3 separate regions of the Homo sapiens genome follow, and all the other regions are linked to region 2. The links come from fine-mapping of genetic effects on gene expression. A gene starts in region 2. Each other region holds a variant in brackets. All regions are shown on one strand. Distances are from middle to middle.

Evidence for each region. PIP is the estimated chance that this variant, and not a neighbour inherited with it, causes the effect.
Region 1: its variant is fine-mapped to the expression of MYO15B in whole blood (TOPMed, PIP above 0.99).
Region 3: its variant is fine-mapped to the expression of MYO15B in whole blood (INTERVAL, PIP 0.97).

What each region holds. Positions count from the first base shown.
Region 1 is chr17:75,626,089-75,634,088 of GRCh38, forward strand. MYO15B (myosin XVB) reads left to right here. Exons shown (of 64, transcript NM_001395058.1): 63 at 1-140; 64 at 319-761. The coding sequence ends at 396. It overlaps RECQL5 (RecQ like helicase 5), which reads right to left. Exons shown (of 20, transcript NM_004259.7): 9 at 5,362-5,580; 10 at 5,062-5,161; 11 at 4,886-4,922; 12 at 4,691-4,749; 13 at 4,531-4,604; 14 at 4,096-4,189; 15 at 3,620-3,754; 16 at 2,846-3,387; 17 at 2,584-2,674; 18 at 2,130-2,354; 19 at 1,535-1,604; 20 at 766-1,434. The coding sequence ends at 1,334. It overlaps SMIM5 (small integral membrane protein 5), which reads left to right and starts at 7,346. Exons shown (of 3, transcript NM_001162995.3): 1 at 7,346-8,000. RefSeq lists enhancers at 6,418-7,098, 7,099-7,778. The variant G/A (reference allele first, on the strand shown) is at 3,262.
Region 2 is chr17:75,582,710-75,592,797 of GRCh38, forward strand. It overlaps MYO15B (myosin XVB), which reads left to right and starts at 5,091. Exons shown (of 64, transcript NM_001395058.1): 1 at 5,091-7,534; 2 at 7,917-7,980; 3 at 8,198-8,307; 4 at 8,463-8,537; 5 at 8,892-9,003; 6 at 9,268-9,371; 7 at 9,529-9,592; 8 at 9,719-9,832; 9 at 9,970-10,088. The coding sequence starts at 5,349. RefSeq lists enhancers at 4,907-5,740, 5,243-5,312, 5,741-6,572 and silencers at 6,193-6,322, 6,363-6,962.
Region 3 is chr17:75,614,522-75,622,521 of GRCh38, forward strand. It overlaps MYO15B (myosin XVB), which reads left to right. Exons shown (of 64, transcript NM_001395058.1): 31 at 62-162; 32 at 252-328; 33 at 440-521; 34 at 719-817; 35 at 982-1,079; 36 at 1,172-1,363; 37 at 1,548-1,626; 38 at 1,791-1,925; 39 at 2,003-2,264; 40 at 2,353-2,440; 41 at 2,564-2,783; 42 at 3,289-3,401; 43 at 3,605-3,664; 44 at 4,622-4,697; 9 more. Among named protein-coding and RNA genes, the nearest start is that of SMIM5, 15 kb to the right of the region's middle. The variant G/A (reference allele first, on the strand shown) is at 3,999.

The DNA.
Region 1 (8,000 bases), 42 kb after region 2:
GCCTGTACTGCCGCATTGCCCTGAAGAGCCTGCAGCGGCTCCACCTGCTAAGCCCTCTGGAGGAGAAGGGGCCCCCTGGCCTGGAAGTCAACTATGGCTCAGCTGACAACCCCCAGACCATCTGGTTTGAGCTGCCACAGGTGAGTGGCCAGGCCTCTGGCCACCTTGCGAAGGTGGATGTGAGGGCCTTGCCCCAGCATGGCGTGCAGTGGGAGCCCAGGCCCAGGCCGATGCCCACTGCTCCGGAGTGCTGTGGGCCGGGGCAGAGGCGAGGGGCTGGCTGGGGAGCCCTCTTGTAACAGGCCTTTCTCTGGGCAGGCCCAGGAGCTGCTATACACCACTGTCTTCCTGATAGACAGCAGTGCCTCTTGCACTGAGTGGCCCAGCATCAACTGAGAGGAGTGCAGGCCGGGGAGAGAAGAGGATGAGGCCTCCCCCGGCCCAAGTCTCACCCACATGGTCTGCCTTGGATGCTATCAGATCACTGTTCTAGAACCTGCCTCAGCACAGCCCAGCCGGCCCACATGCAGGCCATGAGGCAGGGGCTGCTATCACGTCACCAGCAGGCAAAGAAAACAGCCAGACCCTCTCCAGGACGGCCTGGGGCCAAAGCGGGCTGCAGGAACTCGGCTGGGGCACCTGAGGTTGCCCAGTCTGAGGGAGATGCCCACCCGACCCCAGGCTCCGCCCAGGCCCCACATTAGCACAAGCCCAGGCATGGGAGAAACAGCTGCTGAGGAAATAAAACTCCCTGGAGAAAAGGGCTGTGTGCACGCCTGCATGCCCCACAACAACACAACTTTATTCCTCTCCCAAACATCTGTCAGGCCTGGCCTTCCTGAGCAGGAGCTGAGCAGGAACAGGGCCTGGCTGCCTCTCCTCTGCCACAGCTCTGACCTGGGCAAGGCTGGAAGCTGGCATCGTAATGGATGGGGGAGTGGGTGGAGGATCTGAGGGTCCCCTGGGTAGGTTCCGATACCTTGGACAGGTGGGCCTCATCCTGACTTAGAACTCGGGGAGGGGCCACTCTTCCTTCCCCTTCTTCCAGCAGCAGCTCCACCACCCTCCACCTTCTGTCCTCGACATGTGTCCCAGAAAACCCAGCCATGAGGACCGCTCTGAGAAGGGTCTATAGGCTTTGCAAGCAGAAAGAAAGGTGGGCTGACCTCTGACCTGGATTCAGGGGGTGTCTGGGGTCATCCCCAAAGCCAAGTATGGTTGGAAAGGAGAAGGACTGAGAAAAGACGATGGCCCTGGCATCAGCAGGTGAGGCCCAGGATGACCCATGCTAGAATCTGGGGGAGGACGCGGGCCCTGCCCAGCCAGCAGTTGGTCATCTCTGGGGGCCACACAGGCCATGCCAGTCAGCTTCGCTCTCGCACCGGGCCCGGCCATGGAAGAAGTGCCTGATGAGGTTCTGGGCCTCTTCTTTCACTACAGATTCAGGGTGGGGGCATGAGGAGGTGAGCGTTAGCCTCCTCCCTGTAGACCACCCTCCCAAGTGCCTCCTGGCCCTGGCAATGCCAGCGCTCACCGCTCCTTCCAGGAGAGGTCTTCTGAGTCAGCAAGTGTGAGAGGTGGCGGGCAAAGCCTTTAAACAACTCCTGGAAGGGAGAGGGAGAAGAGAAGCAGAGAGCAGGACCCTTGGTGGCCGGGCGCAGTGGCTCACGCCTGTAATCCCAGCACTTTGGGAGGCCGAGGCGGGCGGATCATGAGGTCAGGAGATCGAGACCATCCTGGCTAACACGGTGAAACCCTGACTCTACTAAAAATACCAAAAATTAGCCAGGCGTGGTGGCGGGTGCCTGTAGTCCCAGCTACTCGGGAGGCTGAGGCAGGAGAATGGCGTGAACCCGGGAGGCGGAGGTTGCAGTGAGCTGAAATCGCACCACTGCACTCCAGCCTGGGCGACAGAGATAAAAAAAAAAAAAAAAGAGAGCAGGACCCTGCCCTGACCCCCAGAGCAACCCACGGCCATGACCCAACGGCAAGGCAGGCCCCAGGGAGGACGGGCGTGGGGCTGGCCCTAGGCCCACTGTGTTCTGGGGCTCAAACTCCCTGCCTCCCACCCCCACTACACCCACATACCCCAGGCATGGGAGAAGGCAGAGCCCACTCACTCCCCCTACCTTGGAAGCAAACTTGCCCTCCTTGTAGAAAGGGGTGAGGCACTTGACCACAACATTTGCAGCCTCCTTCAAGGAGACGCCAGGAGCGGAGAGCTGGAAGGGGTCTTGAGCCGTGGGATTCAAGGTGCCCTGTTCGCTGGCCGAGACGCTGCCCTTGACCTCAGCTACGACGGAGGGCTTGGCTGAGGGGCGTGGCCTCTTCTGAGGCTGGCTCTCTGGGTTCTCCTGAGAAGGGCCACAGCAGAGGGTCACTCCTGAGCTCCCTTCCACTGGCCTGCTCCCCTCCTCCAGAAGACTGGGTCCCCGCACCAGCTGCCTCTCTCCAGCCCAGCCCATCTGCTGCCAGGTGTGGAAAGAAAGCTGATTTTCCCTGACCCCTTGAGCAGGGCACAACAGCTCCTGGCCTCGCCCACAGCCCTTCTCTCCTCCCCAACAGACTCATCCCTGCCGGCACCTGCTGGGATCGAGGCCGCTTGCCCTTCCATGTGTCCTTTGCAGGGGTGGGCTGGACTTCAGGGGTGCCCTGGTCTCTGGGCGGGCAGGTGCTGGTAGAGGGAAGAGCAGGCATCACAGCACTGGGTCCTGGTGGCTCCCTCATCCCAGGAGGCCTAGGAGAGCCCATCTCAGGGGTGAGCTCTGAGCTTCAGACGCCCAGTGAGCAAAGGGGATGCTGCCGTGTAGGTTCCAGAAGATTCTATGACTACCTGTACCCTTACCTTGGCCTCTCCCTGAGGCACTCCTCAGTCTGGGGAGGGGCAGGCGAATGTCCCCCGGCTCCATCTTCCTCCCCTGTGTACTTCTCTGGGGCCATCGGGGGTCCCTGAACCCCCTCACAGGAGGGGCAGGCACCTTCTGCCTCTGGGGCTGATGCCAGCAGAGCTGGGCTTTCCACCCTTCGGCAGAAGAAGCGGGCGATGCTCTGAGAATCCTTGTGGGCCGCTGTGGCTAGGAGCTGCTGTTTCTTGCTAGCCCGGCCCTTGGCAAGGGAGCTGCCCCCAGAGGAACTTTTTGCCTTCTTCTCAGGGGAGGGCCCCCCATAGTGAGCGCTGCCTCCAGGGACCTCCCCTCTGGGCCCAGGGAGGGGCTCACTCCCATCCTCATCCAGGAGGCCACAGGGCCGGCTCGGGGGCTC[G/A]TGCTCGCCTCCCCGCTCGGGCTGGGGGGCTTGCTCCCTGATCCGAGTTGTCTCCATCAGTTCCGTGGCCGTCTGGAACGGGCAGGAGCCTTTGGGGAAACCAGCTCCCACCCGCTTGGGTTTGAGCTGTAAATGTGAGCAGGAGGAGAGGAGGTTCAGCCCACTAGGCCCCCTTGAGGGCACCGCTGGCTGGAGCAGTAACTCACATTGGGACGGGGCTCTCAGGAGTGTGGGAGGGAAGAGGCAGGCAGGACCCTGGTGGGGAGCCAGGCCTTGGCAAGAGGTGCACCCCTGAGGGCAGAGGGGAAGTGAAGCCTTTCCTGGTCACAGGTCTGGAGGCCACTGGGCCACAGCTCACCGAGTACACATGGGAGGCTGGTGGAATGTCATACTCATTGGGCTCCGGGGGCTCAGCTTGGGCACTGCAGCTCTTGGCACTGCCTCCCATGTCATAGGGCTGCCCATCCTTGGAGGCTCTGTGGATATCGGCCACCTGGGCAGGGATAGGCAGGGAGGCTGTGGCACCCGCCAGCTCCTCCTGACATGCCCCACCTAGCCCTCCTTTTCTACTAGGCACTACAAGTGGGTTTCTGTGGCCAGTGGCCACAGGCAACTGACCACTGGGCAAGTTTTAGGCCTCCCATCCTCACAGGGTTGGCTAGAAACATGTCCAGCCAGTGGAGAATGGAGCTCTACCCCCATAAACTGTCTCTGGGGTGGGCTGGGGAGGGTGAGTTCTGGGCTGCCTGAGCCCAGAGAGCTGGCAGACAGCTTCTGCGTCAGAGTATGGAGGGGCCCCTGCAACGACCCTGGGTCCGCCTGCACCAGGCCCACCTTCTTCAGCACGCTGGCCTTGTAGAGGTTGGCCACCTTGGCGTTCCGGAATGTCTCATGTTCCAGCTCCACGGCCTTGGCCCGGAGGTCAGCTCTGTGGGTGCAAGGTAACAGGCACAAGGTATCAGGTGGGCCTGGGCTTCTCCCTGCTGAGCTCTTGCGGGACTCCAGGCCTGGTGGGGTAGGCCTTGGGCACAGGGATTCTGATTAGGGCTCTCTGAGCACCCTGTGGCTTACTGTCCCTCAGCAGCTGCTGGTAGCACCTAAGTTGTAGCCATGCCTGGCCCTGGTGGGGTTGTAGGGGCAGTCCCCTGGAGTAGGAGAGGTACAATCTGGGGAGAGGTGGCCCAAACAGGCCAGGGTTGACAGGGTCCTGCAGTCTCCAAGGGAACGAGAGCTTGGAGTGCTCCTCAGCCCAGTGATCGTGGAACTCACTCATCAGCGGTACGTGTTGACTGGCGGTTGCTGCTCAGCGCCTCCTCCAGAAGCCGCAGGCAGTGCTCCCGTGCCTGGCACAGGACAGTGAGACTGGTCGCATGGCCTCGCGGCTGGGGGAGGGCCCCGGCGGGTGGCTGAGGAGCTGCCCGTCTCTTACCTTCACAGTCAGCCTGGGGATCCTCCTGCTAGAAGCCTCTTTCAGGGGACAGTTCTCATCTGTGGGGGGGGGGGGTGGTCCTTGGTCCTTTCGCTCCACCTTCTGCGCTCTGAGGTCCCCCACAGCCCGGATGAGAATCCTCCCTCCATGCCCCGGGAAGAGCCCACAAGCCTCCAGGAACATTTCTGTACTGACCTGGGGGTACAAATTCTTCTATCTTGGGGTCTTTGCCCTGGAGGACAACATGAAGGACCCATGAGGCGTCCTGCCCTGCCGCAGGACAGTCCCATCCAGCACCAGAGAAGGGGCTGAGAGGTGCGAGCAGGGGGCCACCAGGGGCCCCACACAGGCCACTGAGTGCCTCCCCTCACCTTGCGCAGCTGCATCTGCTTCTGATAGAAGAGGTTCCACTCCCGCTTGTGGGCCTCATCTCTGCCTTCATCCCCGCTGCCTCCAGAACCTTCGTCATACCTAGGGACAGGCCAGGCGTGAGTGGCCCTGGCCTGGGCTCTGCCCTCCCCATGTGTGCTGCTGCTAGAACGGCAATGTCCCTGATGTCCTACCAGCTCAAGGGGGGATTGCGGCATCGTGCCACCTCTGGTCTGGCCCTGGCGCCAAGGGAATGCCAGGCAATTCCAGCGGGTTGGAGCCCTGGCTTCTCGGCCCCTTACCTGCTGAAGTCCCCGTAGCCCTTGCGGCCTCCCTCATACAGCTCGGGGTCAAAGCCGTTCCCCTGGGAGGGCCCGATGCAGGTCTTGCTCCAGCTGCTGCTGCGCTCCAAGGCCTCCAGCCGCCTCCGCACGGCCGTGGGGTTCTGGCAGTGGTCGCAGCCTTTGGCGCAGGCAGGCAGCGCATCCCCGAAGTACTTGGCAATGGCGGCATGGCGGCACCTGGAGCAGGCAGCACCGCAGAGGTGAGGGGCGGAGAGCCCAGTCGGCCAGCGTCTGTTCACCCGAGCCTGAATCGCTAGCTGAGCGAGCACTGCCGCGTCCGGCACCATGCCGGGAGCCCCACACCCCTCATCTCATCCAAGCTGCACCAGGCATCGTTTGGCTCTCCCCACTACACAGATGAGGACGATAAGGTGAACCAACTTTCCCAAGGTCACGTAACACATGGGGGTCTCCCGGGAAGCAGGATGTGAACCCCACTCTGTCCAGTTACTCCTCTGCTCCTCCCCTCTGTCCTCTGGCAATGGGATGTAGATGCTGGCTCTGCCATGAAGGGTGTCTTTTGGGTGACACACTTCACCTCCTAAAGCCCATGCATTCCCGTCAGTAAGATGGTGCAGAAAGGCACAGCCCTCACGGACTGAGCGAAGATGGCTGAGGTGATGTCTGAAGTGCATTACAGTACAGTCATGCCCCATGGAATGACTGCACAGCCAATGGTGGTCCCCTACGATTCTAACACTGTATTTCTACTGTACTTTTTCTATGCTTATGTGTGCTTAGATATGTGAATACCACTGTGTTACAACTGCATACGGTACTCAGGACAGTAACGTGATGTACAGGTTTGTGGTCTAGGAGCAACAAGCTGTAGCGCATGGCCTGGGTGTGTAGGAGGCTGTGCCGCTTGATATTTTTTTCCTTCTCTTCCCTGGAATTGCTGTTTGATTTCCCTAAGTATACTCTGTGACCGCACAATGACAAGTTAAATTTCTCAAAACGTATTTGCATTGCTAAGGCAGGCACGGCTGTGTAGTAATATGTCCCATCATCAACCCGTGAGGGTGTCACAGGTGGGGCCTTTAGCCAGGGAGACGCAGCCTCGCCTGGAGTCCTCCTCTCGTCTTCCTCTGTCTCAACCCTGCTGCAGCCCTCCTGGGGTGAGCGGCCTCTGCCCATGCTGGGAGCAGGGAGCAGCCTCTGGCTGGCCCACGAGGCTCTGTCGCATCTCTGTTCCCTCTGCATGGGGGTGGCTGTCGACCCTTGGGGCAGCTGCAGAGGCCGCAAGAGGGGCCATAGCTCTCTCAGGCTCCTTATAAACAGCCATTCCTGCCACCAGGAACGTGGCACAGGGTAGGGAAGCCCAAGAGGAGATGCTGGAACACAGGCAGGGCTGTCTGGGGTGCCACATCCCAGGGACAAGAATAGCTGGCATTAACTGCTCTAACTAGAACTCCTCCCAGTGTGAGCACTGCTGCGGCTGCAAGAAGCCCTTTGAGGGGCTGCGACCCCAAGGCGCAGGCTCAAGGATGCAAGGCTGATTGCAACACCCCGGTAAGGAAGCAGGGCCTGGCTGACTTTCTTTTAGCTGAGTGAATGCAGCTCTGAAGCCTGACCTGGGCTGGGACAGCCGAGGCGGCCACCAGAGGGCGCTCCTGCCCCCACTCTGCTCCAATGAGTAAATGCAACAAATGGTTCATCCCCAGGAGTCCGTGCGCCCGCACAGCGGCCGCCTGTCCAGCCTCTGGGAGGCTCTGGCATCCGAGTGGTGTGACCACATGGCTGGCTTCCTCCCCCTGCCCTCCTCAGGCCCTGACTCACTGGGGTTTTGTGCTCGGACTCAAAGAGCTCCATTGACAGCGGGGCTGGGGTCGGTTTCTCTCCACACAGCCTAGCCTGCTGGGAGGCACAACCAGGCAAATGTCACAGGGCCCGGCCCCTGGACTCTGGAGCCCTGCCCTGACAGCTGGGCCAGGAGTGCGGTCACAGCCCCAGCAGAAGGCCCTCACCTCACAAGGAACATGAGGCGCCTTGCCGGGCGCGCAGGCCACTCCCAGGTCACTCAGGATTCCAAGTTCTCCCCCAAGACGCCTTCAGATGCTGAGCGGCACAAGGGCCTCCCCAGGGACTGGTTGCAAAGCCTCCTGCTCAGCTTGAGAGGGCCACCAGCTCCCCACTGTTTACTGTTGTTCCTGAGAGAGGCCAGAGGGAGGGACCAGCCAGGGAGTGGCCAGAGGGACAGAAGGGGTGGCCTTCCTGAGGGCAGGGTGGGTGCCCCAGACCTGAGAGCGCTGCAGGACTCCCCTCCACAGGCTCAGGTGGAGCCTCCCCAGGGTCCTCCTGGCCAGGAAGGCAGAGAGCCGACTTCTTTCTTCAGCTCCCAACCCAGGCCCAGCCCACGGCGTGGGAGTCGGGGAGAGGGAGAGGAGGAGGAAGGAGGAGGAGAGAGGGAGCTTGTCTTGTCCCTGAGCAGCGCTCTCAGGGCAGAGGTGAGGCACCGGGACATGAAGTTGGAGGACAAGTTCCCAAGCAGGGCTTCCTCGGGCTCCCCCTCGCGACGGTAATTTGACACTTGGATCTCCAGGACGACCAACAACAAAAAAGCCAGGCAGAGACAGCAGCTGGCTGTCAGCAGAGGA
Region 2 (10,088 bases):
AATAAATTCACAGAAAAGTGCTTAGATCCTGGCTAACACGGTGAAACCCCATCTCTACTAAAAATACAAAAAATTAGCCGGGTGTATTGGTGGGCGCCTGTAGTCCCAGCTACTCAGGAGGCTGAGGCAGGAGAATGGCGTGAACCCAAAAGGCGGAGCTTGCAGTGAGCTGAGATCGCACCACTGGACTCCGGCCTGTGCGACAGAGCGAGATTCCGTCTCAGAAAAAAAAAAAAAGGGCTTATGGCATGCCTTGAGCATAAGAAGCCCTGAGGTGCTAGCTATCTGCTACTATTATCGTTATTGTTTGTCCAGGGCAAAACTGAGCTCTCTGGCCGGGTATTGGGGCTCATACCTGTAATCCCAGCACTTTGGGAGGCCGAGACGGGCGGATCATGAGGTCAGGAGGGCAAGACCATCCTGGCTAACGTGGTGAAACCCCATCTCTACTAAAGATACAAAAAATTAGCTGGGCACGGTGGCATGCGCTTGTAGTCCCAGCTACTCGGGAGTAGCTGAGTGACAGAATAAGACTCCGTCTAAAAAAAAAAAAAAAAACTGAGCTCTTTCTCTATGCTGTTTTAATTTTTTTTGTGGTTTTGGTTTTGGTTTTTGAGACAGGGTCTTGCTCTGTTGCCCAGGCTGGAGTGCAGTAGCACAATCACTGCTCTCTGCAGCCTCCATCTCCCAGACTTAAGCAATACTCCCACCTCAGCCTCCCAAGTAGTTGGGACTACAGGCGTGTGCCACCATGCTCAGCTAATATTTTTTTTTTTTTTTTGAGACGGAGTCTCATTCTGTCACTCAGGCTGGAGTGCAGTGGCGCAATCTCTGCTCACTGCAACCTCTGCCTCCCAGGTTTAAGCGATTCTCCTGCCTCAGCCTCCTGACTAGCTGAGATTACAGGCATGTGCCACCACACCCAGCTAATTTTTGTATTTTTAGTAGAGACGGTTTCACCATGTTGGCCAGGCTGGTCTCGAACTCCTGACCTCAAGTGATCTGCCCACCTCAGTCTCCCAAGAGCTGGGATTACAGACATGAGCCACTGCACCTGGCCTCCAGCTAATTTTTGAAAATTTTTTGTAGAGATGGGGTCTTGCTGTGTTGCTCTGGATGGTCTGGAACTCCGGGATCAAGCAATCCTCAGCCTCTCAAAGTGCTGAGATTACATTTGTGAGCCACCATGCCCAGCCCACTGTGCTATAAGATACAAACCAGGCTGGGTGCGGTAGCTCATGCCTGTAGTCCCAGCACTTTGGGAGGCCGAGGTGGGTGGATCACGAGGTCAGGAGTTTGAGACCAGCCTGGCCTATATGGTGAAACTCCGTCTCTACTAAAAATGCAAAAATTAGCCGGGAGTGGTGGTGTGCACCTGTAGTCCCAGCTGCTCAGGAGGCTGAGGTAGGAGAATCACTTGAACCCAGGAGGTGGAGGTTGCAGTGAGCCGAGATCGCACCACTGCACTCCAGCCTAGGCAACAGAGCAAGACTCCGTCTCAAAAAAAAAAAAAAAGATACAAACCAACAGTGCACAAGTCATAGGAGAACGACTCAGCAAATCCCCACAAACTGAACAAACGCATCACCCATATCTCAGAGCTTCCCTTGTGTCTCCTTTGAGTCACTACTGACCCTGGAGGGACCACTCTGTAGATCACTTTGCCTGTTTTTGTACTTTATATAAATAGAACGCAGTGGATGCTCTTTCATGCCTGGCTTCCTTCACTCACCATTATGCTTGCAAGATTATCCACATTGTTGCTGACAGCTGTAGACAGTTCTCAATGCTGTGTACTAATCCACCGGGTGAATACCTCACCCACGTTCTGCTTCTTGCAGGAGAAACGAGTGCTCAGACTATAATCATCCTTTGCCCCAGCACAACTGGCGATAGGGGAGTACAGCTTGCAGACATCTACAGGCTGCGGTTACCTGTGAGCTCGTAGTCCTTCTAACAGCTGCCTCCCTCTCCAGAAGGCTGCCTCCTTGAGAATGCAGGCTGCAAAGGCCAAATCACTGTCAACTTGTTGCTCAAACCAGGCCTCTGGGCTGTGAACAGCCCTCTCGGGCAATGTGGGTGCTGGCAACAGCTGCAACCATGTCTAAGGCTGGTTCTAGGAGGTGTGCAGAGAGATGGGCACAAGGCAGGCGTGGGCTGACAAGGGCATTCCGAAGGAAAGTGCTGCAGTCTGGAATGTCACCTCCCCTGCTCTGTGCTGGGTGCTGCTCCTGGTGAGGAAAGGCCACAGCAAACCGGTCAGTGGGGGCATGGGAGTCCCTGTGGGGCACGTCACAGGCCCCACCTGGACGACCCATCTGACTCCATCGTGGGTCCTCTGAGCCTGCCCCAGCACAGCTGCCTTGCCCCAGGGCCCTCAAGTAGCCTCACAAATCCTGCCTGGGTTTAACAGTCTAATAATCAAGAAACTCCTGACCGGGTGAGGTGGCTCACACCTGTAATCCCACCACTTTGGGAGGCCAAGGGCGGCCGATCACTTGAGGCCAGGCGTTCAAGACCAGCCTGGGCAACATGGTGAAACCCCATCTCTACTAAACATACAAAACTAGTAGGGCATGGTGGTGCACGCCTGTAATCCCAGCTACAGGCTGAGGTGGGAGGATCCCTTGAATCCAGAAGGCAGAGGTTGCAGTGAGCCGAGATCGCGCCACTGCACTCCAGCCTGGGCAACAGAGCGAGACTCCGTCTCAAAAAAGAAACAGACCTTCTCACACCCAATAAATAGAGAGATGGGGAAGGATGAGAAGAGAGTGGTCTCAGAAAAGGAAGTAAAGTGGCTCTAAGAGCAGGAGAGCTGCTTATTTTCACAGATAAATGAACTTAAAGAGGCACCGAGTTTTTTTTTTTATTTTATTTAAAAAAAATTTTTTTGATACATATTAGATGTACTTATTTTGGGGGTACATGTGATAATTTGATATAATCAAATCAGGGTAATTGGGGTATCTGTCACCTTTTCTTTTTCTAATACTAGGAGCATTTGAATCATTCTCTGTTGTGGTAATCAGATCCAACACCAGGTAGTGGGGGTGATGAAGTCCGGCAGAGTCAAAGGAATGAGAAAAAGACAGTTTGAGAGAGAAAGTGGGACCAGGGGACCATCGCGAGTGTGGAGGCTGTGAAGGCCCCTGGGCACTGGGAGCCCAGGCTATTTATTGGTGCTCAAAGAGGTGGTGAGGATGTGGAGGTTGAAAGGAAATAGTGTATCAAGTGAACGAGAAACATACAGCTGCTTGAGATAATGGGAGTGCTAGAAGCAAGGAGCCAGCAAGTCTAGCAGACATGCAAGTCCTGCCTGAGCTTCTCTCCCAACACTCAGCTTTTCTCCCAACAATTCTCTTCTAGCTATTTGGAAATGTACAATCAATTAATGTTATCTATAGTCATCCCACTGATCTATTGAACACTAGATCTTATTTCCTCAAAGTGGCACTGAAATTTTGTCATGTTTCAGAGTGTTGGAAAAGAATGGTGGTCTCCCATTATTGGTGGCAATATAAATCGGCACAACCTTTGTGGAGAAAAATTTGGAAATCTCAAAATTACAAATGCAAGTGCCCTATGGTGCAGCGATTCTACTTATAGTTGATTCTATGCAGATGCTGGTGAAATTGTATTCCAGTATTGGCTGTAACTTAAGCAAAAGATGAGAGGAAGGAAGGATCCACCTTTTTTTTTTTTTTTTTTTTTTTAAGAGAGTGAGTCTTGCTCTGTCACCTAGGCTGGAGTAGGGTGGAACAATCTCAGCTCACTGCAATCTCCGCCTCCTGGGTTCAAGCGATTCTCTTGCCTCAGCCTCCCGAGTAGCTGGGGTTACAGGCATGTGCCACCACACCTAGGTAATTTTTGTATTTTTAGTAGAGATGGGGTTTCACCATGTTGGCCAGGCAGATCTCGAACTCCTGACATCAGGTGATCCACCCACTTCGGCCTCCCAAAATGCTGGGATTACAGGCATGAGCCACCTCACTTGGCCAGGATCCACTTTGGATGTAGAAACCCATCAATAAGGAATTGGTTCAACCATGGTGCATTTATTTGCAAGGAAGAGAGGGAGGAGAGAAGGGAGGAAGGCAGGCTGGCTTTTTATGGTATTATTATGAAATCACCAGATTACATTGTTAAGTGAAAAAGGCAAAGTGGAGACCCCGGAGCTACATAAGCTACCACTTGTGCTAAAGGGGAAAAATATAATATTTGCTTTTCTCTGCATGGAAAGTTTTTGTTGTTGTTTCTTTGTTTTTGAGACAAACAAAATGCTGTCACCCAGGCTGGAGTGCAGTGGTGTGATCTCAGCTCACTGCAAGCTCTGCCTCCTGGGTTCATGCCATTCTCTCCTGCCTCCTGGGTTCATGCCATTCTCTTGCCTCAGCCTCCCGAGTAGCTGGGACTACAGGCGCCCCCCACCACGACCGGCTAATTTATCGTATTTTTTAGTAGAGACGGGGGTTTCACCATGTTAGCCAGGATGGTCTCCATCTCCTGACCTCGTGATCCGCCCTCCTTGGCCTCCCAGAGTGCTGGGATTACAGGCGTGAGCCACCGCGCCCGGCCAACCTGGAAAATTTTGCAAGGAAATACAGAAATGGGTAACCTCAGGGGAACACTGAGTACATAGGCTGAGGGTCAGGAATGGGAGACTTTTATCTTGTAATGTTTGGATGTTTGAATTATGTGAATGTATTACCTGTTTTAAAAATAGATATTTTAAAAACACACACATTGGGGCAATCAGGAATGTATGGGGTGTGGTTCTGTTCCACAACTCCAAGGAGGTAGACAGGCATGTTTTACACCAGTTCAAGATGTACATTTATGTTTTATGTACTTTTCGGTAAATTGTATTTATTCCACAATTGAAAAGAACAAAAACCCTAGCGACTCATGGAGTGCTGCCGTGTGCCAGGGTGGGCCTGGCCCCAGTCCCTTGGAACCCTCAGAAGGAAGAAGTCCAGACAGGTTCTCTGGGCCCTTCCTTGCTGGGCAAGCACTGAGGTGGGAGTGGAGCATGGACCCCCTCAGTCTGGCGCGGTGCGAGGCTGGCCTGGCTGGCAGCGCCTCCCGGCGGCACTGTTGCCCTGTCCGCAGCTGTAGCGTCTCCTGTTTCCTGGGCGCCTCTATTCCATTGTTGGCCGAGGGGGTCAGGACCCGCCGCCTTCTGCATTATTGATGGTCCTGTAAGGCGGGCACCTCGGGGAGTAGAGCCTGTAGCCCCTGCGAGAGCAGAGCCGGGTGGTGCACTGCACAGAAGGTCACCGCGGGAGGCCAAATCCCCGGGGAGGGGAAAGGACCTGGGCGTCGGGAAGCCCGTCTCCTTTGGGCCAGCCATGGGCAGGAACCAGCGCAAAGCGCCCCAGCGCCTGGAGAGGCCCGGGAGGCCGGCCTCAGGGGAGCAGGAGTCGGGGTCGGCCAGCGCGGATGGCGCGCCCAGCCGGGAACGCCGTTCCGACCGCGGGCAGGCGGACAGGGCGAAACCGGCGGCCGAGCCTGCCACCGCCGGGGGCCAGGGAACCCCTGGTGGCCGCAGGAAGCCCACTGCAGAGGGGAACGGCGGCTGCAGACGCCCAGGGGCTGGGCTGTCCCCGAAAGCCCAGGAGAGGCAAAGCAACGCGCAGCGTCAGGGACGCGGGCCCAGGGGCGGCCGCGGGGGGCGCCTGGAGGAGGGAAGCCTCTCCGGAGGAGAAGAGCTGGGCGGCCGCCGTAGGAGGAAGCGGAAAGATAAGGGGCCCTCGGCTCGGCGGGGCCGCCGGACGCCCAGGAGCCTCAATGGGGACACGTCGGGTGGGGACGGAGGCAGCTCCTGTCCGGACAGCGAAACCCGCGAGGCCCAGGAGAGCGGCAGCCAGCGCGGCACAGCCCGGGAGCTGCGGCCCACGCCGGAGCCTACGGACATGGGCTCGGAAGGGACAAAAACCGGGCCGGAGTCAGCGCTGGAGCCAAGCAGCGACGGCCTGGACAGCGACTGGCCCCACGCAGATACCCGGGGCCGGGAAGGGTCGTCGGGGACGGGGCCCCTGGGAGCCAGCGAGCATTCCGGCGGGGACTCCGACTCGAGTCCGCTGGGGACCGGACCTGGACGGGGCTCTCGGGCAGCTATGGCCTCCAGGACCTTCGAGGACAGCTCGCGGGCTCCTCGGGACACTGGGCCGGCCAAGGACGCGAGCGACAACCGGGCGCAGCGGGGCGCCGAGCCAGAAACAATGCAGGCCTCGACGGCCCGGGCTCCGCGCCACCAGGTCGGAAAGGCGGTGGGGCAGGTGCCAGCGGCGGCAGGCGAGGGCGAAGCGGGAGCCGCAGCAGGAGCGGGGCCGGAGGACCCAGCCCCGCTGGCGGCCCTCCTGGTGGTCCGCAGGCTCCTCGCGAGGCCCCCGCCAGGCGCCGCTTCCCAGGCCGTGGGCCCCCGCCGCGCTGGCCTCAAGGAGCGGCTCCTGAGTGTAGCGCGAGCCCTGGGCCTCCTGCGCTGGCTGCGGCGGCGGCTGCGGCTGCGGCGGCGGCCGCCAGAGGGCGAGGGGCAGGGTACCGGGCCACGGGCGAGCGAGGGGTGGGGCCGCCGGAAACCGGACGAGGGGCGGGGTCATGGGAGAGGAAGCAAGGGGCGGGGCCGCGGGAAAGCGGATGAAGGGCGGGGCCACGAGCGAGGGGACGAGGGTCGGGGCCGCGGGAAAGCGGACGAAGGGCGGGGCCACGAGCGAGGGTACGAGGGGCGGGGCTGCGGGAAAGCGGACGAGGGGCGGGGTCACGAGAGAGGTGACGAGGGCCGGGACCACCAGAGAGGGTACGAGGGGTGGGGCCGTGAGCCCGGGCTGCGGCACCGTCTAGCGTTGCGCCTGGCTGGCTTAGCAGGGCTGGGGGGTATGCCGAGGGCTTCCCCTGGTGGCCGCTCCCCGCAGGTCCCGACAAGCCCAGTCCCCGGCGACCCTTTTGATCAGGAGGACGAGACTCCAGATCCCAAGTTCGCGGTCGTGTTCCCCAGGATCCACAGGGCAGGGCGGGCGTCGAGCAGCCGCAGCTCTGAAGAAGCGTCCGCAGATGCCCCCACGGGGGAAGGCCGAGGTTGGCCTCGTGCAGGGGTGGGGGGGCACAGTGAGGGGTGCAGGACGAGTGGGGAAGGGGTGTCCGGGCTTCGTCGCGGCTCCCTCCTTGCCCCGACTGCACCCGACGGGCCTTCCCTCGACGAGAGCGGCTCCAGCAGTGAGGCGGAGTTGGAGACCCTCAATGACGAGCCCCCGGTGCGCTGGGCGCAGGGCTCAGGCCCCCACGAGGGTCCTAGGCTTGGCGCCGCCGTGCTGCTACCCCGACTCTCCTTGGAGACCCGCCTGCAGCAGGAGGGAGACCCGGGCCTCCGTGGGTCCCTGAGGGAGCTGTGGGAACCCGAGGATGAGGACGAGGCGGTGCTGGAGAGGGACCTGGAGCTGAGCCTCCGGCCGGGCCTGGAGGCGCCACCCTTCCCCGGTGCCAAGGGCAGGAGCCTCGGAGACGGCCTGGAAGACATGGAGGACCTGGCGCGGTTGCGGTTAGCGGGCGCGGTGCCAAAGCTGCCATCCCCGGCTCACAGCTCCTCATATCCACCCTGCCCTCATCTTTATGAATTGCGTGTAGACCCTTATTGAATCCTTAGAAGGATGGGCTTGAACCCTCCTGGCAGGAAGGGGCAGGTAAGGGGCAACAGGTGCTACGTCCCCAGGACCGCCTTTCTAATTAGTACAAAGCTTCCTTCTGGGTCAGAGCCAGCCCTCCTTGTAGCCTGCGCATTACTTGACAGCTCAGCCCCCATTTTATGGATCAGGCTCTGGGAAGTTGAATGACTTGCCAGGGTCCCTGCAGTGGGTGGCAGAACTAACCCACAACCTCCTGCAGCCACAACTTGTCATGCCTCCACCCTGTTGTCCCTACAGGCTGGTGTGTGACAGCTCTGTGCTGCTGTGCCTCAAGAAGAGATTTCACCTGGGCCGTATCTATGTATGGGGAGCCACGGGGACGGACAGTGGGCGGGGATCCCCTTTTCTCTGGGGACAGAGGGCTCCCTGGCACCCCTGGAGATTCTCCTTCCTCTTCCTCCCCGGGCTAGGCGGTGAACCCTCTCTGGAGCCCTGCAGAGTGGGACTGAGGGGCTGGGCTCTGTTTGCATTCCCCCTGCTCCCTCCACACTCTGATGAGAGCTTGTTTTCCTCCCCAGACCTTTGGGGGGCCTGTCTTGCTTGTTCTGAACCCCCACCGGTCCTTGCCTCTTTTTTCACCTGAGGTCCAGGCAAGCTACCACCCCAGGAAGGCCCTCAGCACCACTCCGTATGTGACTCTGCCCCACTGACCCTCTGCTCACCTCCCAGGCAGCCCAGTCCCTGCATGTCCCCTTGACTGAGGTCCCGGGGCCTGTGAGCACCTCTGCTACACCTCGGAGGGTCCCAGGTCCCCATGTCTGGCAACCTTCTCATCTCCCTCAGACACATCTTTGCCATCGTGGCATCAGCCTATGACCTGGCTCAGAATACTGGGCAGGACCCATGCATCCTCCTGTGGTGAGTGGTGGCCTTCCTGGGTGGCTGAACCCATGGGCCACACTGAGGGTTGATGGGGCGGGGCCTGAGGTCTTCACTGGAAGCCACTGGTATGCTCCACTGCTGGGCTACAGTTCTGGACTCCTCAGGGCCGAGCTCCTGGCTGAAATCATCACATGAGCCCCTGGAATGTGGCATCTTGGGGACTTTTTCTTTTCTGTCGGGTCTCTCCATGCCCTGGGACTATCTTTCCACATTTATGGGGGTCTCTCCAGGCTAGCTGTCACTTCTGGGTGGCACATCCCACTTCCTGGGTTCACTGGGGTGGTCCTATGTGCCCCTCCCTGGAGACCCTACCAACCAACACATCCTTAGCTCCTCCCACTGCAGTGGGCACAGTGGCTCAGGGAAGACGGAAGCCGCCAAAAAGATCATGCAGTTCCTAAGCAGCCTGGAGCAGGATCAGACGGGGAACCGAGAGTGTCAGGTGAGGGCCAGGCTGGAGGTACCTCATGGGTTGAGCTGGCCGTCTGTCTTCCTCCAGGGGACAGCTGACCATGTCCAAGGGACTATCTTTCTCCTTTCAGCCAGGAGAGGGGTGGTCTCCAGGCCTCTGGCGTCTCCTGGGGTCAGCTGCAGGCACTGCCCTTTCTGATGGGACTGACGCCTCCCTGGACCTGCCCCTAGCTGGGATGCCTGCTGGTGGGGGCTACTGCTGCCCAGGGATGCTTGAACACCCCTCCCTGTACAGGTGGAGGATATGCTGCCTATACTCAGCAGCTTTGGCCATGCCAAGACCATCCTCAATGCCAATGCCAGCCGCTTCGGCCAGGTCTTCTGCCTCTACCTACAGCAGTGAGTGGCAGGGTTGCAGGGGGCACCTACAATCACTTACCCTTCCTGGGTCCTTGGGCTGCTTCCCTGGGGTCCAGACCCTGGTAGGGCTTCTTCTGCACGGGGCCCCTGGGTGTTCTGCATCCTGGGCACTCACACCCATCTTCTGTGCCCACAGAGGGGTCATCGTGGGAGCCTCTGTGTCTCATTATCTACTTGAGACCTCCAGGGTGGTGTTTCAGGTAAAGGCAGCCCTTCTATCCACCCCTGCCCAGTTCCCAGAGTAGGAAGGGCAGAGGGTGTCACTGTCGGGGTGTGGCCTCTAAGCCCCTAGGGCACTGAGCCCCTAAGCCAGTCCTGTCCCCAAGGCCCAGGCTGAGCGGAGCTTCCATGTTTTTTACAAGCTGCTGGCAGGGCTGGACTCCATAGAGCGGGAGCGGCTCTCCCTGCAGGGACCGGAGACTTACTACTACCTCAACCAGGTCGGGGGAGCCCTTGTGGTGCGGCGGGGAGGCCTGCCCAGAGGAGGATCTCGGCCCGGAGGTCTGAGGAGTAGCCGGAGTAGAGGGAGGCTATGGGGTGGCAGGCCCCGCTCCCTCACCCCTGCTGTGCTCTGCAGGGCCAGGCCTGCAGGCTGCAAGGCAAGGAGGATGCCCAGGACTTTGAGGGGCTGCTGAAGGCACTGCAGGGGCTCGGCTTGTGCCCAGAGGAGTTGAATGCCGTCTGGGCTGTGCTGGC
Region 3 (8,000 bases), 31 kb after region 2:
GCCCCAGCCTGGGTGACCCTCAGCCTTGGCCACCCCCTTAGCTGGATCCCGTTTCCTGCAGAGCCGAGGCCATTCCCCTTGCCCCTGGCATTCAGGCCCCCTCACTGCCCCCAGGACCCCCTCCAGGTCCAGCCCCAACGCTGCCCAGCAGGGACCACACAGGTAAGGCTGGAGTGGGCACATGGAGGTTGGCAGAGCATGGGAAGCCCCACGCCCCGGGCCATGGCTCCAACCCTCTCCCTGCCCCACAGGGGAGGTCCAGAGGTCAGGGAGCCTGGACGGCTTCCTGGACCAGATCTTCCAGCCAGTGATATCCTCCGGCCTCAGCGTGAGTCGGGCACAGCCCCCAAATGCCCCTGCCCCAACCCCCCGGGGCCTCTGCTGCCCCTTCCATTTTTCTCAGGGCTCTCACTCTGACCTGTGACCATTGTCCCTTTAGGATCTGGAACAAAGCTGGGCTCTGAGCAGCCGCATGAAGGGAGGGGGCGCCATTGGGCCCACACAGCAGGGCTACCCCATGGGTGAGTGAGGGGCTGATTCCTCACCCAGGGCCTCCGGGCCCGGCAGCATGGCAGGCATGGCCTGGGACCCCTCTGGCAGTGGCGATCGATGCCCTGGCCAGCACCCCGGTGCCCGATGCTCTTCTCTGTGCCTGGGGCTGGAGGGAGGTGGCATGTGGGCCCAGGCAGGGACTGACAGGGAGGGCGTGTTCCCTCAGTGTACCCAGGAATGATTCAGATGCCTGCATACCAGCCAGGCATGGTCCCTGCACCCATGCCCATGATGCCAGCAATGGGCACAGTCCCTGCCATGCCAGGTAAGTCTGGGCTGGGGGCACCAGAGTCCCTTCTCAGGAGAGCAGCCACCAGCTCTGGGACTGGAGGAGGGAGGGTCCTGCTAGGAGTCCCGAGTGCACAGTGGGCAGCGAGCTTCAAGGCTGGCCATGGTGCCCACCACTCTGGCCGCCTGCCGCCCTCACAGCCATGGTGGTGCCGCCGCAGCCACCGCTTCCCAGCCTGGATGCAGGGCAGCTGGCCGTCCAGCAGCAGAACTTTATCCAGCAGCAGGCGCTAATCCTGGTGAGCGCTGGCAGGGCCCTGGGGCCACCTGGTGGAGGAGAGGTCTGTGGCTCGGGGATGAGGGTCTGAACTGGCTGCTCCTCCTGCTTCAGGCCCAGCAGATGACAGCCCAGGCCATGTCCCTGTCCCTGGAGCAGCAGATGCAGCAGCGGCAGCAGCAGGCTCGGGCCTCCGAGGCTGCGTCCCAGGCCTCACCCTCAGCCGTCACCTCCAAGCCCAGGAAGCCCCCCACACCCCCGGAGAAGCCACAGCGTGACCTGGGATCAGAGGGTGGCTGCCTGAGGGTGAGGAGGTGACCATATTCTCAGGAAGGGATGTGAGGGTGGGGACTGCAGGGGCAGGGGACATGGGCAGGGTGAGTAGGCAGACACAGGGAAGAGGCTGCTGGCCCAGGACTGGGGACCCGAGGGGTGTGGCGAGTGTGGCACCCAGGCTGGCTGAGCTGCCACTCATTTCTGCTTCTGCCAGGAGACCTCCGAGGAGGCTGAAGACAGGCCCTATCAGCCCAAGAGCTTCCAGCAGAAACGGAACTATTTCCAGAGGATGGGTGAGGGCACTTGGGGTGGCAGGACCGTGCAGAAACATGGCCAGTGCCCCTGGCCCGGGCCAGGGAGGGTGGGGTGTGCTCTGCTCCCCGGAGTTGGTGCGGCCCATCCAGGAGCCCAGCTGGGCCAGTATGGGTAACTTTGAAGGCCATCTGGACACTTGCAGGGCAGCCACAGATCACAGTGAGGACGATGAAGCCCCCGGCCAAGGTCCACATCCCCCAGGGGGAAGCGCAGGAGGAGGAGGAGGAGGAGGAGGAGGAGGAGGAGCAGGAGGAGCAAGAAGTGGAAACAAGAGCAGGTTGTGGGGAGCTGGGCAGGGCCTGGGGCTCCGGTGGCTCTGCACGCGGTTAACAGTCTTTCCTGTTTCCTGGTCAGTGCCGTCCCCTCCTCCTCCCCCCATCGTGAAGAAGCCATTGAAGCAAGGTGGGGCCAAAGCTCCAAAAGAGGCTGAGGCTGAGCCAGCCAAGGAGACAGCGGCCAAGGGCCATGGCCAAGGGCCAGCCCAAGGCAGGGGGACTGTGGTGCGCAGCTCAGACTCCAAGCCCAAGCGGCCACAACCCAGCAGGGAAATTGGCAACATCATCCGCATGTACCAGAGCCGCCCGGGCCCCGTGCCTGTGCCCGTGCAGCCATCCAGGTGGGCCCCCACGGGGAGGTGGCCAGGGCTGTCCCGCTCCTCGGGGAATCACCCTATGAACTTAGTGACCTCTTGCTTCTCCCACGAGGCCTCCCAAAGCTTTCCTGAGGAAAATCGACCCCAAGGACGAGGCTCTGGCCAAGCTGGGTATCAACGGTGCCCACTCGTCCCCGCCGGTGAGCACCCCAGCCTGTCTCCCCCAGAGTGTGTGCTGCTGCACTGGGGAGCTCAAGGCTCTCTGGGGCGAACTTGGCCTTGTGCTGTGACTCAGCCCGTGTACTTTCTCCGTATCCCCCCAGATGCTGTCCCCCAGCCCAGGAAAGGGCCCCCCGCCAGCTGTGGCTCCTCGACCCAAGGCCCCGCTACAGCTTGGGCCCTCTAGCTCCATCAAGGAAAAGCAGGGGCCCCTTCTGGACCTGTTTGGCCAGAAGCTGCCTATTGCCCACACACCCCCACCTCCACCAGCGCCACCACTGCCTCTGCCCGAGGACCCAGGGACCCTTTCAGCAGAGCGTCGTTGTAAGGAACCACATTTCTCCTGCGCCGTGGGCTTCACTGGGGCAGAGGCAGGGTTCGCACAGACTCTCGGTGCCCAGGGCTGAAGGCATTTCTGCGTGGCTGAGGCCAGCTGTTCGGGCTTCTGGACTTTGGAGCCATACGTAGCTGGGGAGTCCCAGCTTCCGCGTTCCCACCCAGGGCAGGGCCTGGGCATCTTTGGGGCTGTCATCGAGAGGCTGTCACACACAGGGTGTTGTCCCTGACACATACCCGACAGCTCTGTGAGGAAGTTAGTGGCCCTGGCTGACATGGTCATAGAAGACCCACGAGCCTCACGGACGCCAGGGAAAGTTTAGGGCCCAAAATGGAGGCAGGAGATGGTGCCATGGAAGGAGTAAGGCAGCTGGAGGTTGGGAGAGCCGGGCCCTTGGAAGGCTCGTGGGGATGAAGGTCTTCCCTCCCGTGCCCCCATCACTCTGGCTCTGCAGCCCCTCACTGAGGCTCCTCACCCCCTCCTCTCTGCCAGGCTTGACACAGCCCGTGGAGGACCAGGGGGTCTCCACCCAGCTACTCGCGCCCTCTGGCAGCGTGTGCTTCTCCTACACCGGCACGCCCTGGAAGTTGTTCCTACGCAAGGAGGTGGGCATGAGGGTGGGGCCTTGGCCTGGCCTCTTTGGGCTGGCAGGGAGGCGGCAGGCTTTGTGCATCCCAGCCTGGGACCCCAGCATCCCCTCCCCACAGCCCACCATCTCAAGGCTGATTTTCCAGGCCTGGGAGGGCAGAGGCTTGCTGGGAAGAGGCACCAGACCCACCGATCTTTGCCCTTCTGTGCCCTCCTCCAGGTGTTCTACCCACGGGAGAACTTCAGCCATCCCTACTACCTGAGGCTCCTCTGTGAGCAGGTGAGAGCTGGCCCACCTGCCAGCCTGAGACATCTGCAGAGACAGCATCCTTCGTGCCCTTTGTCTAATGGCTGGGCCAGGTTAACACCACGTAGGGCATGTTGGCAGCCAGCACTGGGGGGCACTTCTGTGTGCCCAGACCTGCCTTCATTGAACCTTCACAACATTCCTGAGAAGTAGGGACCATGGCCAGGTGCGGTGGCTCATGCCTGTAATCCCAGCACTTTGGGAGGCCAAGGCAGGTGGATCATGAGGTCAGGAGTTCGAGACCAGTCTGGCCAACATGGTGAAACTCCATGTCTATTAAAAATACAAAAATCAGGCGTGGTGGCAC[G/A]CACCTGTAACCCCAGCTACTTGGGAGGCTGAGGCAGGAGAATTGCTTGAACCCGGGAGGCAGAGGTTGTAGTGAGCCGAGATTGTGCCACTGCACTCCCGCCTGGGTGACAGAGCGAGACTGTGTCTCAACAACAACAAGAAGTAGGGACCATTATTCATCTAGTTTTATAGATAAAGTTTAAAAGCAAAGTGCGTACAGTGCACAACACAGGCTCTAGCACACAGTAGGTACTTAATAAATGGTTGTCACTTTGCCACCTCTGAACGCTCCCAGGAGTGAGCCTCTGTTCCCCCTAATTCTGCAGTAGCACCTGCCCCCTGCCCCGAACAATCTTGTATCTGGGCTGATCCAAGGGCAGTTACCACGGGGTCTCTGGGCAGTGAGTGAAAAGGGAGGGCTGGCAGTTGCAGGGGAGGGGACAGGTGAGACGTGTGAATGGAGGTGGCCCAAGCCCTCCATCCCTCCCTGCCCCACCTAGGCCCTCTGCTGAGCACACAGGCCATGGGGGCCAGGGCGCCCTCCATCGGCCTCCTCAGGTTTTCCTTCATGCATGTGGATGGCTGCTCTGGGGGTGGGCTCTGTCTCAGGACCTGGTGGTGACCACCTCGCTCTGCCCCCAGATCCTACGGGACACCTTCTCCGAGTCCTGTATCCGGATTTCCCAGAATGAGCGGCGGAAAATGAAAGACCTGCTGGGTATGGGTCCAGGGACCATGGAGTTGGGAGCTTGAGTGCTGGGGGCCGCGCCTGCCCTGAAGGAGGGAGCAGCATGGGAGCAAACTCTAGAGCCCCCTCTGTGTGAGCAGAGGGCAGCCTGGGTCCTTCCTGCCCACAGGAGGCTTGGAGGTGGACCTGGATTCTCTCACCACCACCGAAGACAGCGTCAAGAAGCGCATCGTGGTGGCCGCTCGGGACAACTGGGCCAATTACTTCTCCCGCTTCTTTCCTGTCTCGGTCAGTGGCGCTGGGGTAGGGAGTAGGGATGCCAGGCCCCCAGCCTGGATCCTGGGGTGCATGGGCACAGACCACAAGCAGGAGAGCCGGGGAGCAGACGCCAGGGGAAGGACAAAGCCCAGCCACTGGCCCTGGGCAGCTCCAGGGCATCTTGGGCAGTAGCAGGACCCAGGAGACTGCCCGAGACCCACCACCTTCCTGTAGGGCGAGAGTGGCAGCGACGTGCAGCTGTTAGCCGTGTCCCACCGTGGGCTGCGACTGCTCAAGGTGACCCAAGGCCCCGGCCTCCGCCCCGACCAGCTGAAGATTCTCTGCTCATACAGGTGCGCTAGCCCACGACCCTGGGCTAGAGGTGGGGGCAGGTGGCAAGGTGACCTCAGTTCATGCCCGATCCCTGCGCAGCTTTGCGGAGGTGCTGGGTGTGGAGTGCCGGGGCGGCTCCACCCTGGAGCTGTCACTGAAGAGCGAGCAGCTGGTGCTGCACACAGCCCGGGCAAGGGCCATCGAGGCGCTGGTTGAGCTATTCCTGAATGAGCTTAAGAAGGTAAGTGTGGGGCACGGGTTGAGAGGCCGGGCAGACAGCCCTCACCGATGCTGCATCTCCCTGTCCGTCTTCCCTGTGGGGGCAGGGGCTGGGAGTTTGGGCCAAATCCCTGGAAGTCTGGGGTGCTAGGTGGAGGGGCAGGCCAGCAGGGGGAGCAGGTGGGCAGGCAGGACAGGGAGGCACAGGCAGACTTGCTGCTCCAGGCCCTCGCCTGCTTGCCCACAGGACTCCGGCTATGTCATCGCCCTGCGCAGCTACATCACTGACAACTGCAGCCTCCTCAGCTTCCACCGTGGGGACCTCATCAAGCTGCTGCCGGTGGCCACCCTGGAGCCAGGTATCGCCAGAGGCCGGCAGGGGCTCACACAGGGAGGGCATCCACTTGGCAGAGGCTGCCCGGGGGCAGAGGGTCCAGTGGGTGAGCCACATCCCTGGGTGCCTTCCAGGCTGGCAGTTTGGCTCTGCCGGGGGCCGTTCCGGACTCTTTCCTGCCGACATAGTGCAGCCGGCTGCCGCTCCCGACTTTTCCTTCTCCAAGGAGCAGAGGAGTGGCTGGCACAAGGGTCAGCTGTCCAACGGGGAACCAGGGCTGGCTCGGTGGGACAGGGCCTCAGAGGTGAGGAAGATGGGAGAGGGACAAGCAGAGGCAAGGCCTGCCTGAGACTGAGGAAGGAAAGGGGTTTGACCACTCCCGAGGCTGCCATGCGGTGGGACCACCCTGCTGTCCGTCTCCTGTGGCTGCCCCTCTGCCCGCTCCTGATGGCTCGCCTTGTCTCTCCAGCAAGACTGTGCACTCCTTGCAGGCAGGGGCTGGGCTGGATGCTGCTCTTGTGTCCCACGTGGTACTTAGTTCAAGGCTGCCCCAGCAGATGCTTAATAAACAGCTCTTCACTTTCCTGGCTTCTGGTCTTGCTCCTTTGGTGTCTGGCTGGGGAGGGATGGGGCTGGGGCAGGACCCCTGGGACAGGGCACTGGACACTCAGGTGGCACCAGGTTTCTTGTGATCCCAGCGCCCTGCCCACCCTTGGAGCCAGGCACACAGTGACGACTCGGAGGCCACCAGCCTGTCCTCTGTGGCCTATGCCTTTCTGCCCGACTCCCACAGCTACACCATGCAGGAATTCGCCCGGCGTTACTTCCGGAGGTCCCAGGCCTTGTGAGTGCACTGGGCCAACCCCTGTGCCTGTCTGTCCTCAGTCTTCCTGAGAGAGAGCACCCTGCTCAGAGCCACTGGGCTGTGCTCTTAGCACTCTCCCTGCCTGGCTGGCTGGGATGAAGGCAGGAGGGCCAAACAAGCTGGGCTGTCTCCCTCTGCCCCCCACAGGCTGGGCCAGACTGATGGAGGTGCCGCAGGAAAGGACACGGACAGCCTGGTGCAGTACACCAAGGTGGGAGAGAGGCAGGGAGGGGTCTGGCCCGTAGATCTGCCCTCTGACCCCCACGGCCCCCCAGACCCATGGCCTCCTCTCTTTGGCCACAGGCTCCCATCCAGGAGTCGCTCCTCAGCCTCAGTGATGATGTGAGCAAGCTGGCTGTAGCCAGCTTCCTGGGTGAGTGGCCACAGGCATCCTGGGTCCCCATGTCTGCAGTGCCATGAACCTGGGTGTCTGGTCCCCTTATCTCCTTGAGCTCTGCCTGGCTCTGTCCCAGTCTGCCAACTCCGGGAAGCTCACTGGTGGTTCCTGGACCCCAGGGCCCTCACCCGCTTCTACTCCCACTCAAGGGTTGTGGGTTGTGTGGAGTCTGGGGTTGGAAGGCAGTCCATGGGTCCAGAGGATGCTATGTGCTGTGTGGGGCCTTGGATACCCAGGAGCCTCAGTTTCCCCATGAGTCGAGCTGCAACCAGCTGCCCTGGCTGGCATCTATGCATTTTGAGAGTGAGGCATCAGATGGCAGGTGAAGGCCCTGCACAGCAACAGCATGAGCCGGGGCCAGCCCCAGCACAGCCCCAGCTATGTGCCCTGTTTCTTATCGTGCCTGCAGCCCTGATGCGGTTTATGGGTGACCAGTCCAAGCCCCGGGGCAAGGATGAGATGGATCTGCTCTATGAACTGCTGAAGGTAAGCCTGGGCTGTGCGACCCCCAGCGCCTGTGCCTGTCCTCCTGTCTGGGCCTGAAGGAGATCCCCTTCTCTTGGTCACTGTCCTTCAAATCATTCCAAAGTATTTACTGAGCACCCATTGCGTGCAGGGGGGTGTGGCTGTGAAGCCAACAGGCTAAGTCTCTGCAGTGCTTACAATGAGATAACTTATGTGTCTGGGAGTGAGAGGTCACTGGAGAGTAAGAATGCAGGGAAGGGGCTGCTGCAGTGGAGAAGGCTTTGTGGCAGAAGCCTTCCTACAGGGAGGGAAGGAGTGAGCACGGGGTGACAGAGAAGGGCAGGCAACAGTTCAGATGTGGGGGGAAGCCTCGGCACCATCACGCACCGGGACCAGCGTGGCTGAGCCTAGTGAGCTGCAGGGAGAACGGAGGATGAGGATGGGGAGCGGATGGTGGGTCCA